Linked DNA regions of Homo sapiens: region 2 is linked to region 1. The links come from fine-mapping of genetic effects on gene expression. A gene starts in region 1. The other region holds a variant in brackets. All regions are shown on one strand. Distances are between the middles of the regions. Region 1 holds the start of ABCC4 (ATP binding cassette subfamily C member 4 (PEL blood group)). Region 2 overlaps ABCC4 (ATP binding cassette subfamily C member 4 (PEL blood group)).

Region 1 (8,333 bases):
ATCAGCTCTCTAGGGCAGGTCTCCAGAGAGTCTGTCTGGTCACCAGTGGCAGTTTCCACAGCAGCACAGGCTTTGCAAGATGACACTTCACCCACTGAGATATGGCCAGCAACAGGGGAGCAAGGATTTAACCACTTTCTGTGGGCCAGATGCATCTGGAGATCCCTCTCAATGCCCATATTTAGGGAAAAGTCCTTCGTTGTTAGCCTCCACCCTGCTGCTGACCCCAGATCACCTCTGGATCAGGTGTGGGCAGAGGAATGCAAAGTGCCTGCCGGGCACCAGGGGGCAGCAGGACAATTCCTAGGAGAGTCTCAGGGATTGACCCATCTTGTGCCCAGCTGGCCACAGTTCATAGGCTATGCCACTTATTTCCACTAACGGGAAAGAGGAGGAATTATTCAATAAATGATAATGGGGAAAACGAGCTGTTTGGGGAAAAAATGGGGACTATCTCATATCAAATACCAAAAGAAATTCTAGCTGCCTTTATTGTTAGAAATGAAACAATAGCTAAAAGAAAATGGAAGGCCAGGCACAGTGGCTCACACCTGTAATCCCAGCACTTTGGGAGGCCGATGCAGGTGTATCACCTGAGGTCAGGAGTTCGAGACCAGCCTGGCCAACATGGTGAAACCCTGTCTCTACTAAAAACATGAAAATTAGCCAGGTATGGTGGTGGGCACTTGTAATCCCAGCTACTTGGGAGTCTGAAGCAGGAGAATCACTTGAACCCTGGAGGCGGAGGTTGCAGTGAGCCGAGATCACACCACGGCCAGCCTGGCAACAGAGCTAAAACTCTGTCTCATAAAAAAAAAAAAGAAAGAAAAAAGAAAGAAATAGGTGAAAATACTACCTTTAAAAATCCACAATTGCCAACAGCCATAATGCATGACTCCTTTTAGACTCCAAGTCCAAATTATGCTATAAATACACCAAAATCCCGGGAAAATACTTTGAATAAAAGTCAGTAAGCCAGTTATTGGCATCATTTAGGTAGGCAGCTGCCAGTTCACAAGTTCAGAAAGCAGATGATATTTGAGAAGAAAAGCAAACACTCAACAAGAAGGTGAAAAAGCAGTTTTTCCCTACAAGGTGGGCCCTGTCTCCAGGCAGCCACTTCCTGGATGGGCTCATTTCAGCTTTCCACTGGCAGTGGGAAGGGTACACAAATACTGACCTAAAAGCAGGAGGCTAAGGCACAAAATATAACTCAAGAATTTACTACAGACCCAGTGTGGTGGTTCATGCCTGTAATCCCAGCACTTTGGGAGGCCGAGGCAGGCAGATCGCTGGAGCTCAAACTCCTGAGCTGTGGATTACAGTGTCCTTGGGGCACTGTTAGGTTAATCTGTAGCTATGTGGCAATATGAAGTACTTTCGAGTGATAAGTAAATAGCTCAAGGGGGTGGGAACTACGAGGTGACTGCTGTGTCATTTTAATGTCTCTCTGGGCCTGATAATTTAAAAGGACTCCGCATTCCTCAGATGATGATTATTATTATTTTCTCACTATGAGGCCTCAGACTTTAAAATCCCTCAAACTGGCCCAGGCACAGTGGCTCATGCCTGTAATCCCAGCATTTTTGGAGGCCAAGGCGGGCAGATCACCTGAGGTCAGGAGTTCAAGACCAGCCTGGCCAACATGGTGCAACCCCATCTCTACCAAAAATACAAAAATTAGCTGGGTGTGAGGGTGCACGCCTATAGTCCCAGCTACTTGAGAGACTGGGGCAGGAGAATCACTTGAACCCAGGAGGCAGAGGTTGCAGTGAGCAGAGATTGCACCACTGCACTCCAGCCTGGGTGACAGAGCTGAGCAACAGAGAAAGACTCCGTCTCAAAAAAAAGAAATAAAGAAATTTTAACAATTAAAAATAAAGAAAAGCATAATACTGTAATAATACTCCAATGAAAGGAGTAGCTGGAAGCAGTAAGCGCCTCAAATCAGGATCACCTGGAGCACTTGAAACCTCACCACCCCCACCCACACACCCAGTGTTTCCAGTTTTACTGAATCAGTCCAGAGTGGATGCTGGAGAATCTGCATCTCTTAGAATCTCCCAAGTGATGCCGATGCTGCTGCTCTGAGTGCTATGCTTTGAGAACAGCTGCCCTAAAGCACACTAATAGTTGTTACACATGCATCATCTCCAACTGCAGGTACTTTAAGAATTTCCCTTGAGAAACTCTAGCCTTCCAGAACAGGGAGCGCCTTCTCCATGCATTTCCGACAGCACCTGAACTGGAAGCAGCTCAGTACAGCAGCTCCAAAGAGGCTGGGGAGCCAGTCTGCCCAGCTTTGGAGCCTGCTCTGACACTTGATTGTTGTGTGAGTCCAGGCAACTTAACCACTCTCAGCTTAAGTGTCCTCGGAGTAAAACAGAGGTCTACTAGCTCCTTCCCTTCCATCAGGGAAACCGGAAATGAACACCTACTCAAGTCATCAATGGGAGCGCATCACTTCCTATTTCCCTGCCACCTACATTTTGAAAATGCAGGGGGAGAAAAATATAAGGAGGCAGGAGTCACATCTGTAATCCCAGACTTTGGGTGGCCGAAGCGGGAGGAACACTTGAGCCCAGGAGTTCAAGACCAGCCTGAGCAACAACATAGAGAGCCCTATCTCTACAAAAAAAATTTTTTTTTATTATCCGGGCATGGTGACACACACCTGGAGCCCCAGCTACTCGGGAGGCTGAGGCAGGAGGATTGCTTCGGCCCAGGAGTTGGAGGCTGCAGCAAGCTATGAATGTGTCACTGCCCTCCAGCCTGGGTCACAGCTTGCACAAAGCAAGATCCTGTCTCAAAAAAAAAAAAAAAAAGTTCCTTGCCCTGCCTGAAGTTGAGGAGACCATTTGTCTACCTCAAGTTATTATTTGCAGAAACCACACCCATATTCCTTCCTCCTCCACGTGCCCCTCTCCTTAAGAGAAAGGCCGCCAAACAACCAAGAGAAGTTCCTACACCCACTGAGTGTACCACAATCGAAACAAGAGTAAGCGACTCATCCTCTTGGAATCCCCTAGGTCAAGCTTGTCCAACCTGAGGCCCATGGGCTGCCAAATTCGTAAGCTTTCTTAAAACATCAGATTTTTTTTTGCGATTTTTTTTTAGCTCATCAGCTATCATTAGTGTTAGTGTATGATTAGTGTTAGTGTATTTTATGTATGGCCCAAGACAATTCTTCCAGTGTGGCCCAGGGAACCCAAAAAATTGGAGACCCCCACCCTAGGTTGTCCCATAATAAAAGGCAATATCAACATGTGGGAAAGATGAGGCGGCAGAGGTCAAGAAACAGAAGATCTAATAATCATCCAAGTGAGATTGAAGCCCTTCAAAGGTTCAGGCTTATGTAGTTAGCAGACGGAATTCCCCCACACACACCCGCCACTCCCCCAAGACGGAGTCTCACTCTGTCACCCAGGCTGGAGTACAGTGGGGCGATCTCAGCTCACTGCAACCTCCGCCTACTGGGTTCAAGCAATTCCCCTGCCTCAGCCTCCTGAGTAGCTGGGATTACAGGCGTGCTCCACCACACCCGGCTAATTTTTGTATTTTTAGTAGAGACGGGGTTTCACCATGTCAGCCAGGCTGGTCTCGAACTCCTGACCTCGTGATCCACCCACCTCTGCCTCCCAAAGTGCAGGGATACAGGCGTGAGCCACCGCGCCAGGCCAAGATGGAAATTTTAGTTACTACTGTCACCCGAGTCTTTCTCCGTTTGTTTCCTTGCACAAAATGGGTAGGGCTGTGGGCCCTCCCAGCTCAGGAGCCCTGGGGTGGTTTTAAGAAGGTAGAACTCCTGGTAGGAACCACCTGCATCAAGACCATGGATCACCTCTCTGAAGGTTAGCGATTCCAGGGACCCCACCTCCGAGCTGTCCTCCTACGTGGAAGTGAAAGTATTGGAAACAGGGGAAAGAAGCTGGTCAAAGACAGACTCCAGTCGTGGCGGTGCATGTCCCAGTTAAAAGCAAATCCTGGAAAATCTTGTTCAAGAACAGGGTCCCCATTCATAAATGAAAAATAATAATAGTGTTATTTTACCCACATGAAACTTGCCATAACTAGGTACCACGACCCACATGGACACACAGTGAGATTCCCACAAAGAGGCAAAAGGAGAGCCCTGGTCACTGAGACAAAAGATACAGAGACACCGGGACACAGAGAGGTACAACGGGACGTGGAGTTGGATCGAGCTGTCTCGTAAGGAATATCGGAAGGGGTGGGGACACTACTGGGAGATGGCATAGGTCCAGGACACTAATTAGGCTTTGGCTGAGATCAGATAAAGGAAACTGTTCGTAAGCTGCTTACTTAAAAAGAAAGGAAAAGGTGCGTTTGAGTTCAGGAGACTGCGAGTCCCAGAGCAGGAGGCGGGAGCCAGCGAAGGGTGGGCGTGTAAGGGGTGCAGTCGCTTCTCCCGCTGGGCAAGAGACTCCCCCTTTCGGCAGCCTGGGTTCCCCGCCTCCCCACCTCCTGCTCCTCCTCCCCCGAGCCCTAAGGGCCCGCAGGGCCTCCAGTAGCAAAGCCACTGGCCCCGCGTCCCCGCGTCCCCCTGCGCCGCGCCCCGGGGCGCAGGCAGGGACCACGCGGCCGGCGTGGGGGCGGCGCCACCCGCAGCAGAAAGCCCCGGCGTGGACCGCGTGGCGTAGGAAAGCGCTCCCCTCGCCCCCAGCCGCAGAGGGCTTGGGCAGCATCGGGCGCGGCCCCGGGAGAGTGCGTCCGCGGCGCCAGCGGCTGCAGGGTGACCTGTTTCGGGCGGGGACACTCACCAGAAGAACACGCGTGAGCAGAGGTTCGCGTCCTGCAGCGGGTTGGGCTTCACCTCCTGGTACACGGGCAGCATCTTGCCGGGCGGGGCGGGCGCGGGCCGGGGTCGCGCTGATCAGGCGGCGGTGGCCGCGGGCTCCGCTCCTGGACCTCAAGCAGGGATGCTGGGGCTCCGGCCGCCACGCCTGTCCGCTCGGCTGGAGCCTGTGAAGCAGCCGCTTCCGGGAGCCGGGCGCCGGCGGCACGCCCCGTCCCCGCCTCTCAGGCCCGCCGCCTCGGGGGCGCCCGCTACGCGCCGCCGCCTGGAGCCCGGGAGCTGCGCACCGCGTGCGAGCGCGGCCGGGACCGACGGGTGACGCGGCGGGAGGAGACGCGGCGGGAGGAGGCGAAGCTGGCGACGCCAAAGGGAGCCCAGAGCTACGCCCAGGGGTGAGGCGAGGGCCGCCTGCGCCGCTGGATGGAGAGGGTAGCAGAGCGCGCGGCAAGGAGGCCGGGTCCGGAGGTGCCCACGTGCACGAACCCGAGTGAAACTTTCCGAAATTCACTATCCGAGTCTAGGCGCCGACACAGAAGGTGGAGCAGGGAGGCGTCGGCTGTGCCCGCCCCTGCGCCGCAGAAACGCCCCCTCGGCTACGGGTTTGGGAAGACTGGGAGACAGCTGCCTCGTGCTCTAGCAGCCCGCCCCCTGGGCGCCTTTCCCTTCTCAGGACCAAACGACGGTGCCATGGGAGGCTCTTCAACCTGTGAGCCAAACATTTGACCTTGGACGACAGCAAAGTTTAGCCACAGATTATCCTTGTAGAGCTGCAAGACCTCAAGAAAGCCGGGTAACTCGAGAGTATGACCCAGATGAATTCGGGAGATGGATGAATGCTGTCGTCGATGGGGGCGGGCTTTAGGCATCTCACATGTTGCATGCTACGGTGGACCTCTGAGCTTTTTGCTGCCCCCTTAGATTGGGAAAGGAATATAAGAGGAAAGAGAGACTGCCTGATGATTTCTGTCGTCAAGCCCTAAAGCCTAACAGATAACAGTGGCAAACGACACGTGGGTTCCAGAATACCAGTGATGTTCATGTGCATTTCTGAGTGCGTAGCCTCACTAGTGTGTGTGTGTGTGTGTGTGTGTGGCAGTCTCACACACAGTGTCACGATTATGGCTCATTGCACCCTCGACCTCCCAGGGCTCAAGCAATCCTCCCAACTCAGTTTAAGTAGCTAGGACTACAGGCACCCGCCACCACACCCGGCTCATATTTTGTAATTTTTGTAGAGATGCAAAAATCAAAATCAAAGGCTCCAAGTTCAAATACTGATAATTTTTGAAGCCAAATGATTGTCATGGAGGTTTATTTTCTTCATATTTCATGCATGTTTGAGAATTTGGTTTTCTTTGTAATAAGATCATTTTATTGTTCCTTGATAATTTCTCACTTTGTTGCCCAGGCTGGTCTCAAACTCCTAGGCTCAAGTGATCCTCCCACCGTGGCCTCCCAAAGTGCTAGGATTACAGGCATGTACCACCACGCCCGACCAATTATCTCACTTTTAATTCTATCAGTGCCCCATTCAAGGTTATCCTTACTTTATAGATGAGGAAGGTGAAGCTGAAAGGCAGAACTTGTCCAGTCTTAGAGCCAAGAAAGGATAAAACATGATTTGCAATAAGCCTATGTCTAAGCATGGCCTGTCTCCCTGGTGGATGGCCAGTGTGCATGAGAAGTGCCCAGAATATGCTGGTTGAATGGCTGTAGGAATGAATGAACAAAATCTTGTTCCAAGCTTGTGTACTCCCACCTCTAAGTCTTCAGTCATTTCTGTGGCTACCTTAACAAGGTCAGCAGCTGCTCTTCATATCCACCCTGAATGAAAAAAAATGAAAGGCTCCAAGTTCATGGTGCTTGGAACAAGATCATTTTATTGTTCCTTGATAATTTCCCATGTATATTTGCTAAAATAGTATAGTTAATAGCTTTTAAAGAAAGCCTTACACAAACACATATTTAAAAGTCAAGCACAGGCTAGCCAGCATAGTGAGGCTCTGTCTCTACCAAAAGTTTTAAAAATTAGCCCAGGTGTGGTGGCGTACCCTTGTAGTCCCAGCTACTCGAGAGGCTGAGACAGGAGGATGGCTTTAGCCCAGGAGTTCCAGGCTACAAGGAGTTAAGAAGGTGCCCACTGGGCTGGGCACAATGGCTCACGCCTATAATCCTAGCACTCTGGGAGGCTGAGGCAGGTGAATCACCTGACGTCAGGAGTTCGAGACCAGCCTGGCCAACATGGTGAAACCCCATCTCTACTAAAAATACAAAAAATTATCTGGGTGTGGTGGTGGATGCCTGTAATCCCAGCTACTCAGGAACCTCAGGCAGAAGAATCACTTGAACCCAGGAGGCGGAGGTTGCAGTGAGCCGAGATCATCCCACTGCACTCCAGCTTGGCAACAAGAGTGAAACTCCGTCTCAAAAAAAAAAAGAAGGTGCCACTGCACTCCAGGCTGTACAAGCCCATAATCCCAGCACTTTGAGAGGTGGAGACAGGAGGATTGCTTTAGCCCGGGAGTTCTAGACCAGCCTGGGCAACATAGGGAGACCTCATCTCCACTAAAAATGTGAAAATTAGATGGGCATGGTGGAGTAAGTCTGTAGTCCCATGTAACCTGGAGGCTCAGGTGGGAGGATTGCTTGAGCCCAGGAGTTCTAGACCAGCCTGGGCAACAAAGGGAGACCTCATCTCTACTAAAAATGTAAAAATATGATGGGTGTGGTGGCGTGAGTCTGTAGTCCCAGCTGGAGGTTCAGGTGGGAGGATTGCTTAAGCCCAGGAGTTGGAGGCTACAGTAGGCTATGATCACACCACTGCCCTCCAGCCTGGGCTAAAGAGTGAGACTCTGTCTCAAAAAAAAAAAAAGTCAAGCACATAAGAATGGCAAAATATTGATAATTTTTGAAGCCAAATGATGTGTCATAGGGGTTTATTTTCTTACATTTCATGCATGTTTGAGAATGGTTTTCTTTTTGGAGATGGGCTCTCAGTATGTTGCCCAGGCTGGACTCAAGCTGCTGGGCCCAAGGGATCCTCCTGCCTCAACCCCTCCAAGTACCTGGGATTGTAGGCACTCGCCAGCATACCAGCTCATGTTTCAGAATTTCTGTCACAAAAAGGAACACAATATTTTAAGTTGACTACTGTGGGAAAGCTATGATCATTCAATAACCTACCTTTCTGATAGCTCTTTCTCAGATAATATAAGCTATAAACCAAAATAGTCAGCCTTCACCTGATTTACAGTGCCCTTTGAAACTTCCTAAGTTTTCTAGCCCAGTAAATGCTGAGCTACCAGTTCTACTTCCAAGCTAGAGAACCTGTTTACTAAAGTTAGAAGTCTAGTGACTTCCTCTGTCAGACTGTCCCAGAATGCTCTCCCTACCCCCAACAACTGTGTAAGAACCGTCATTAGCCATCTCCAAATTGCCAAAGTGCTCAGTCCCTTCGGCTCCTGCAGAGGCTTATTTTTTTCTTAATTAAGATCTTTTGGAACTTCTTAACATTCTT
Region 2 (8,333 bases), 54 kb before region 1:
AAAACAACACCTGAAATGCTTTTGAGATGTTACACTCACTACCTTCATCTTAAGAAATTATTTCTCTCCAACTTCTCCAAAACAGCCAAGTGTCAATAGGCAAGGCTGGGAAAACAATAGTATTTATACTAGAATTCAGGCTGTTTTCACTGCTAGAAGGAAAAGAAAAAAAAAAATCCAAGGATTACTTTGAGTTGAACTGGGAAGAGCTTTAGCTCCCTGAACTTCACTGCATCGGAACTAAAAGTTCTACCAGTTATTATGTTAAAGACACAAGGTTAAAATGAGCATCATCCACTAGTCACCATGATCCTCTAAAGAATAACTGACTACTGTCTAATTTTATACCATAAACCACCAAGATATTGGTGTAAACACAGGACCAACAAGTGCTCTCTTGTGAAAAGCCCAGGCTCCACTTTATATGAGAGGTGCCTGCCGCCAGCACTGTGTGGGTCCATCTTAACACCTTAGCCTGCCGCCCTAATACCTGGGGCCCACCTTGCTAGTGGGAGGGTTCAGATACCAGGACAGAAGAGCTGTCCCCATACTAGTGACTCATCTGGGGTCTTCATCCTTGCCAAGCAAACTGCACACCCACTTCACGATTCAGGCCAAAGGCTTCTGAAACTGCAGAGATATCATTGCTATGCAAGAAACCCAGAGCCTTTGATAAGTAAAAACAGGGAACTTGACATCCGCCCAGACCATCAGTCAATGTCGTGACCATGCAAGACCACAAGCTTCCCCCTCGTCCATCCGAGGAGGAGACAACTGGGAATGGTGTCTTAACAGCGTGGATGTTGATGAACTTGGGTCAGCAGGGCTGCACGCCTCACACATGTGGAGGATGGTACTCAGTGGGAGACAGGTTTCTAAAGGGTTCTTGGTCAGCCAGGCACAGTGGCTCACACCTGTAATCCCATTAATTTGGGAGGGCGAGGTGGGCCGATGGCTTGAGCTCAGGAGTTCTAGACCGGCCCGGACAACATGGTAAAACCTCATCTCTACTAAAAATACAAAAAATAAGCCAGGCATGGTGCATGCCTATAGTCACAGCTACTCAGGAGGCTGAGGTGGGAGGATTGCTTGAGCCCAGGGAGATGGAGGTTGCAGTGAGCTGAGATCACACCACTGCACTCCAGCCTGAGTGACAGAGTGAGACCCCACCTCAGACGAAAACATAAAAAAAAAAAAAGAGTTCGTGGTCAACCTGAATGTACCTTGGTGCTCTGACCTGCCCAGCACCCCAGCCACTCTCTAGCATGTCACCTGACTTTCCGGCACCAGGACACCTAGGAACCTAGGGTAATTTATAATCCCCAATCTGATTTCCCACAGCCATGCCCCACTGTTCCAGGGAGCTCTTAGCATCTGACTTATCCCTAGGCCAAGTTCAAGAAGCATGTGCTGGATACTCTGAAGACAGAGTTCTCAAGACACCTTTACGACAGTCTGGAGATGGTTAGGTCCCTAAGTCAGCGCTCCTGAGACTGAATCTGGGCTCTGTCATTTACACTTTGTGTGGCCCTAGGCACATTATATAACTACATGGCACCCAGTGTCCTCTTCCCAAAAGTAGGGTTAAAAGAATGCCTTCTGACTGAGCATGGTGATTCCTGCCTATAATCCCAGCACTTTGAGAGGCCAAGGTGGGAGGATCATTTGAGCCCAGGAGTTCAAGACCAACCTGGGCAACATAGTGAAACAAAAATACAAAAATTAACCAGGCATGGTGGCGTGCACCTGTGGTCCTAGCTACTTGGGAGGACTGCTTGAGCCCAGTAGGCCAAAGCTGCAGTGAGCCAAGATAGCACCACTGCACTCCAGCCTGGCAACAGAGTGAGACCCTATCTCAAAAAACAAAATAAAATAAAATAACATGAAAGAAAGAAAGAAAGAAAGAAAGAAAGAAAGAAAGAAAGAAAGAAAGAAAGAAAGAAAGAAAGAAAGAAAGAAATCATAGCAGTTCCTGGTACATAGTATTTTTCAAGTACTCACTGTCAGTATTATTACAACTATTGCTACTATCACTGCTGCTGCTACTACTACTACTGAGTACCAACCACTACTAATCCTGCTGCTGCTTCTACTAGCACTGCTGCTGCTAAGCAGTACTGAGCATGAGCCCCCATATTTGCCAGGTCCTCCACTCCCTACTTTTCTGCCATGACTGCCCAATAACCACCCCGCTAAAAGACCAGCTCTCCACCAACTGTACCCATATTAAAGCTCCCCTCGATCCGGGCCCCTTCCCACATGCCCACCAGCAGTAAAGATTACCATGCTCCTTGCACCAGAGTGGGGCCTGTCCTCAAGTCTCAGGAGAAATTCACGCTTCTACAGCCTCTACTTCTGTGCCTGCTTCTCCCAAAAGCTTACCCAAATCTCACTGTAGTCCAGTCACCATCTGTGGGTTAGAGACCCCACCCCAAGTGGCTGGCAGCCCATGACAGCATGGACAGCCCTGAGCATGACAAGCTCAGTTCCTTCTAAATCATCCTGTTTTCAATTTCATAAGCAGCTGGTGACAAAGGGAAACTAGAGAAATGGAAGTAGCTGAGGGAGGCATGCCTCGAAACCTATGTGAGGCCATTGATTCCCACTACACCTAACCAGACACCTGGCATGAGCCTTAGACACTTACAGAGGCTCCATGGCTACCAGACAACTTCTCTGAGGTTGCACAGCCAAACTGGGCCAGGAAATCCTGCACACACTGGCCACATTGACACCGACTTGTCATTCTATTTCTTTCCAACTGAAACTGATCGGGGCCATGTGGAAACACTATCGCTGGGACACCCCAGCACAGGTTGAAGAGGGGCTGGGAGAACCTGAGGGGCTCCTAGCCCTCTTCCACCCTCAAGTCAGTTCCACCGGTTATTCTGCATGTCCACCCCATCTGCCACAAAGCCACAGTAGCATGCAGGCAGGGCGGGTACCCTCTCAAAGGTGGCATTCACCATCTGGCACCCTGGCCAAAACACCTTTGTCACCAATGAGACCATTCATCTCCCAGGACCGTCCAGTCCCCTGTTGTCTGACAGATTCCTCTGGTGTAGGGCAGAGCTCACCTACCTGCCTCCCACTGCCCACCGTGCCCTCCACAACAAAAAGCATGTTCAACAGGAGCAAACCCCCCCACATACAAACCAACCCCCTCCCCCCACCCACCTCATTCCCAACAAAATGCACCGTGACAACTCCCCATCCTGCATTTAAAGCCACCCTTTTGTAACAACAGCAACATCCACCCCTCTAACTTTAATGGACCACTGACATCCCTAAGGTAGCACAGAGGACACAAGTCACCCAGCAGGACCCTCTGCATCTCCTCTAGCAGGCCAAAGACCAGAACGGACAAGCTACCTGGCAGTGTGCCTAGGCAGAACACTGTCTTTCTGCAGATCTCAAGAGAGGCCCTTCGGGGTAACAGAGGTTATTGCCCTTCTGGCTGT[C/T]TTTGATTTTTCATGGAATGTCCATTTATACATTCTCTGCAGGGCCAGGCACCAAGACTCTACCTTCCAACCAGCAATCCACTCCGACAACAAGGAAGACACACCGGATGGGTGTGATGAATCCCCTTGGGTGCACAGTCCTCGGACCTTCTTCCCAGAGGGGATTTTGGCTCCCAGCACCTGGGCCCACTGGGAGGGGGTAGCTCTTGGGTGCTTCAGCCAGCTCCAGCCTCTGGGGCACCACCGCCAGCCCAGGTGCAAGGCCCTCAGCTCTGTTTCCCCGAGAGGGGAGAGGTGACAATACCTCTCCAGAAGAGCAATTATCAGATTTGGCTTGGTGAACAATTATTTGTTGAGCACCTGTAAAATGTCTTACATTATTCTGGGCTCCGATCCAAAATCACTTCCTCTAAACCACAGGGCACGCACTCCTCAAGGCTGTAGGATCCTCTTTTGACCAGGAGTGACTCTTAGCATTTAAAACATTTACCGAGCACCAACATTGTCCTACCATAGAATAAAATACTCTTCTTCCATGACACTGCATTTTAATTGGTTACAAGAAAAACAATAATGACCTTGAACTTCAGTCACTTAAGTATTCACCTGGATAAATACGCTCACTGAACTAACTACCTAATACTTCCTAGACATGTTTAATCCTTAGACCTTAAAATACCTTCAAACCCCATCTGGCCACTTCTCCCTTCTGTTCCCCCATCCATTACAGCACCAGTCAATGGCGAGCACATTTACTCTATGTGTCCTGAAAAACAATTCATGGTATGTAAAAGCTTTTACCTCAATTAACGTAAAAATTCCCAAAACTAAATAAGATTTCCAGTAACACTTTATGATTGCTCTTGTTAAAGAAGGCTTCTGTGCGTCATTCTCAGCTCTTAAAACTTCTTTATCCCAGAACCTACAATGAGGAAAAAGCTTCGTAAATAAGAGTGAACCCTGCCACAATATAAAACAGGGGAGATGGCAGAGTGACAGGTATGCATTTAAGACAGGGCATTTTGTGACGATTTCATAAATGCTACTAATTGCTCCCAGGGCTCCTGAAGGTTATGTGTGGTACAGAATCTGGAGCATCAGAAAAACAGGCCTTGAGGGGAAGTCTGGGGAAACAAGTTACTGCCAAGCTTTACTGGATTGAAGCCCCATCAGTAGCACAGATAAGCCAGACAACCTCCTCCAACCACAACACTTCCACCTAGAGGGACAGACCTCAGGCATCTCGGGCCTTTGGTGCTGGCTCCCCTGACCTCTACGGAGGCACAGGCAACAGGAGTTTCCCCCAGGCCACCATGGTAGGCTGAGCCTAGGGGCAGCCTGAGGAAGGTGACACATATTCACCTTAAGGGTAAACGGAGGCTCCAGACAGGACCCAGGAAGGCAAAACCCACTCCCCACACACAGACACCCACGCTTCCTTAATGCCCACTTTACTGCCTCCGACTTACCCTTGCAACTCCTCTCCAAGGTGCTGTGAGCGGTCTTCTGGCAGCACTGAATACATATCATCTTCCTCTAATCTCCGTTTATGGCCAATTTTAAACAAGGGATTGAGCCACCTGTTAACAAGAGAAAAGAGACATATATCCAGAATTACACATCCGTGTTTAAGTAGACTCCTACCTCCATGGGTTTTGCTTAAACTTACCTTTAAAATACATACAGCTATATATAGACAGACAGATATGAATATATAGAGCTAGAGAGAGAAAAGTTAACATGTGCACACACACACACACACACACAGTCCCTAGCTCTATCCACAGACAGGCCCCAGAAGCAATGACACACCAGTAGCTGAGAGCATGCTGGTGCCCAGATCTTGGTTTCCAAAACCATTATTATCTAAAAGGAACCAGAGCTTCCTGAAGAAATAGCTGATTCAAAGGCTGGGGCAGAAAAAGATGGCCCATGAGATACCATACGATAAGGAAACATTCAAGGAATCAAGAGGATGGGCCCAAAGAACAGAGGACCCAGCTTGACGGGGTCCCACTAGACAAGTCTGTGATAATGGAAGCATCCAAATAAATCATGACAGCAATGAATTCTAACCCACTGAATAACAAAAGAATCCACGAATCCTTACTGAGACATAAATGGGGTAAGAAGGAAAAACTCTCAGATAAAGAATGATGAGGTTAGAAAACATTTTCAATGGGAGCTAAAACCAGTCAGTGAAGGTTTGATGGGACATTTACATAATCCAAAATTATCTAGGTACAAATTATTTATTAGTTACGAAAGGACAAAATAGTAATCTTGCAGAGGACAGAAAGAACTTATTCAAATATTTTGAGATTCTTTTTACTAAAAAAAAAGAAAAATCAAAATGGTCATCCATTAGGAATCACTTAAATGATATTAACATTATTAATCATTAAATGATAATAATTAACATCATTAATCATTAAATGATAATAATTAACATGCACCAGGCATAGTGGCTCACACCTGTAACTCCAGAGCTTTGGGAGGCTGAGGAGGGAGAATGGCTTGAGCCCAGGAGTTTGAGACCAGCCTACACAACATAGTGAGATGCCCACTTCTACTAAAAACTTATAAAGAAAAAGGCTGGGCAGTGGCTCATGCCTGTAACCCCAGCACTTTAGGTGGCTGAGGTAGGCGGATCACTTGAGGCCAGAAGCTCGAGACCAGCCCGGCAAAACCCCATCTCTAGTAAGAAAATATAAAAATTAGCGAGGTGTGATGACACATGCCTGTAATCCCAGCTACTCGGGAAGCTGCGGCACAAGAATCACTTGAGCCTGGGAGGCAGAGGTTGCAGTGAGCTGAGATCGATGCCACTGCACTCCAGTCTGGGCAACAGAGTGAGACTATCTCAAAACAATAAAAAATATAAATAATAATTAAAATTTAGCCAGATGTACTGGTGTAAGCCTGTGATCCCAGCTATTCCAGAGGCTGAGGTGGGAGGATGGACTGAGCTCAGGAGGTCAAGGCTGCAGTGAGCTGTGATCGCCACTGCACACCAGCCTGAGCAGAACAGCAAGGCTTTGTCTAAAAAAAAAAAAAAGAAGAAGAAACATATTTGTGCCCTATAAGGAAACCTCTAATAACTTTGATAGATGCAATTACTCAATTACACAAACTTCTTTCATCTTGGCTGTCTTATCTGGCCATGTGTCACCTTTAATAGGCATGTTTTATTTTAACATGGGGATTGTCTAATCTAGGAAGCCCTTCCCATGGGGAACCCACTGCCTGGTGGCTTCTGCCTGCAGTGAAATGGTGGGCTTTCAATGCCCCGTAAGATTGGAGCACACACTGCAGGGGTATCCAAGTTATGTTCAGGATTCCGGAAACCTCCTGCTGATCCAAACTAGCAATTCTAATTAACCCAATGGCAAGAAGAACTCATCAACTCACCTCTTTCTCCTCACCTCCTCCAAAATGTGTCCAGAAGACTGTAACCTAACCAGTCCAGCTTCAACTTAGGTGGGTTTCCCAGACATGCCTGAGATGACCTCTGCATGCCCGAGACCTCCCTTCCAGCAGAACCTCATACAGTATATTTCAGCAAGGACTTCTAAGTAAAATTCACTGGTGTCTTTTTGGACTAAAGAGGTTTTTTTAATCAGGGAATAAAACTGGCTCCAGGAAGTTAAAAAATTAAGGAAAGTGAGAATGGTAACTCTGTTCCACAGGCTGAACAGTTAACTGCATAACATTTAGAAATATTAACAAGGAGGGATGCCACTGTTGAGTTAAAGTATCTGCAATCAGAAGAGACCCAAAGCTTCTATTAGAGGATGACACAAATCAGTAAGGACTTAACAAGGACCCTCCTACTCTCTCTCATTGCCCAGATCTCAAAAAGCTGGGCTGAAAAGATGTGGGTACCAGCAAGAGCTAAAGGCTTTTGCCTGATGACAAAAGTCAACTTTGACAAGAGACTAAATTATCTTTGACCATCTATGTAAGGACTTTATACATGGAAATCTAAGTCAGTTGGCTCCTTAATACCAATGTGTCCCTGAGGGGGTCTAGTCAACAATTCCAGACCACTGCCAAATGAGCCATTCCTCCACCCAGTTCTGCCCCAGTAGCCCTTCTCTCCTCAGACTTAGTCTCTTCTCCCCCTTATCTCCCACAATACTTAGTACAGCAGCATCGCTTCCCTCCTAACTGTCCTACTAGGAGTACAATGCTTTCAGGGCAATGACTACTGCCATATTATTTGGAATCCCCATTATGCCTGGTATGTGATAGATACTCAATAAACAGTTATGGAAAGAATGAATGATTGTATTATTGAATAAGACAGATGGGTAGAGTACCTTGAGCAATGATCTAGGGTAAAATTCAATACAAACTCAATATAGCATAGTCGTGCTCAATGCCCAACACAGGAAGCCATCAGCTTCAGCAATACAGAGACATTCTCCACCCCAGGATCACAACCCCCAGCATCATTTCCAGCAAGCAGGAGTCTTAGACAAGGGTTAGTAGAGAGTTTTGTTATTTATTGTTGGTGGTGGTGGCATTTAGTTTTTGTTGTTTTTTCCCCCAAGGATTTGAGAAGTTCTGAATACTGGTTTCTTTTTTTTTTTTTTTTTTTTTTTTTGAGATGGAGTCTCACTCTGTTGCCCAGGCTGGATGGAGTACAGTGGAGCGATCAGAGCTCACTCAGATCCGATCAGAGCTCAGCAGTCTCAAACTTCTGAATTCAAGCAATCCTCCCACCTCTACCTCCCAAGTAGCTAGGAGTACAGGCACATGCCACTGTGCCTGGCTAATATTTTTATTTTTGATAGAGACCAGGTCTCTCTATGTTGCCCAGGCTGGTATCGAACTCCTGGGCTCAAGTGATCCTCCCACTTTGGCCTC

Evidence for each region. PIP is the estimated chance that this variant, and not a neighbour inherited with it, causes the effect.
Region 2: its variant is fine-mapped to the expression of ABCC4 in whole blood (INTERVAL, PIP above 0.99).

Annotation. Positions count from the first base shown.
Region 1 is chr13:95,296,460-95,304,792 of GRCh38, forward strand. ABCC4 (ATP binding cassette subfamily C member 4 (PEL blood group)) reads right to left here and starts at 4,992. Exons shown (of 31, transcript NM_005845.5): 1 at 4,782-4,992. The coding sequence starts at 4,855. LOC102724149 (a long non-coding RNA gene) reads left to right here and starts at 4,492. Exons shown (of 3, transcript XR_429273.4): 1 at 4,492-4,804; 2 at 5,487-5,867. RefSeq lists enhancers at 165-254, 3,275-3,334, 4,937-5,711 and silencers at 4,528-5,167, 5,198-5,257, 5,438-5,497.
Region 2 is chr13:95,242,713-95,251,045 of GRCh38, forward strand. It overlaps ABCC4 (ATP binding cassette subfamily C member 4 (PEL blood group)), which reads right to left. Exons shown (of 31, transcript NM_005845.5): 2 at 4,931-5,041; 3 at 4,263-4,383. Among named protein-coding and RNA genes, the nearest start is that of SNORD13G, 37 kb to the left of the region's middle. RefSeq lists an enhancer at 2,261-2,340. The variant C/T (reference allele first, on the strand shown) is at 3,462.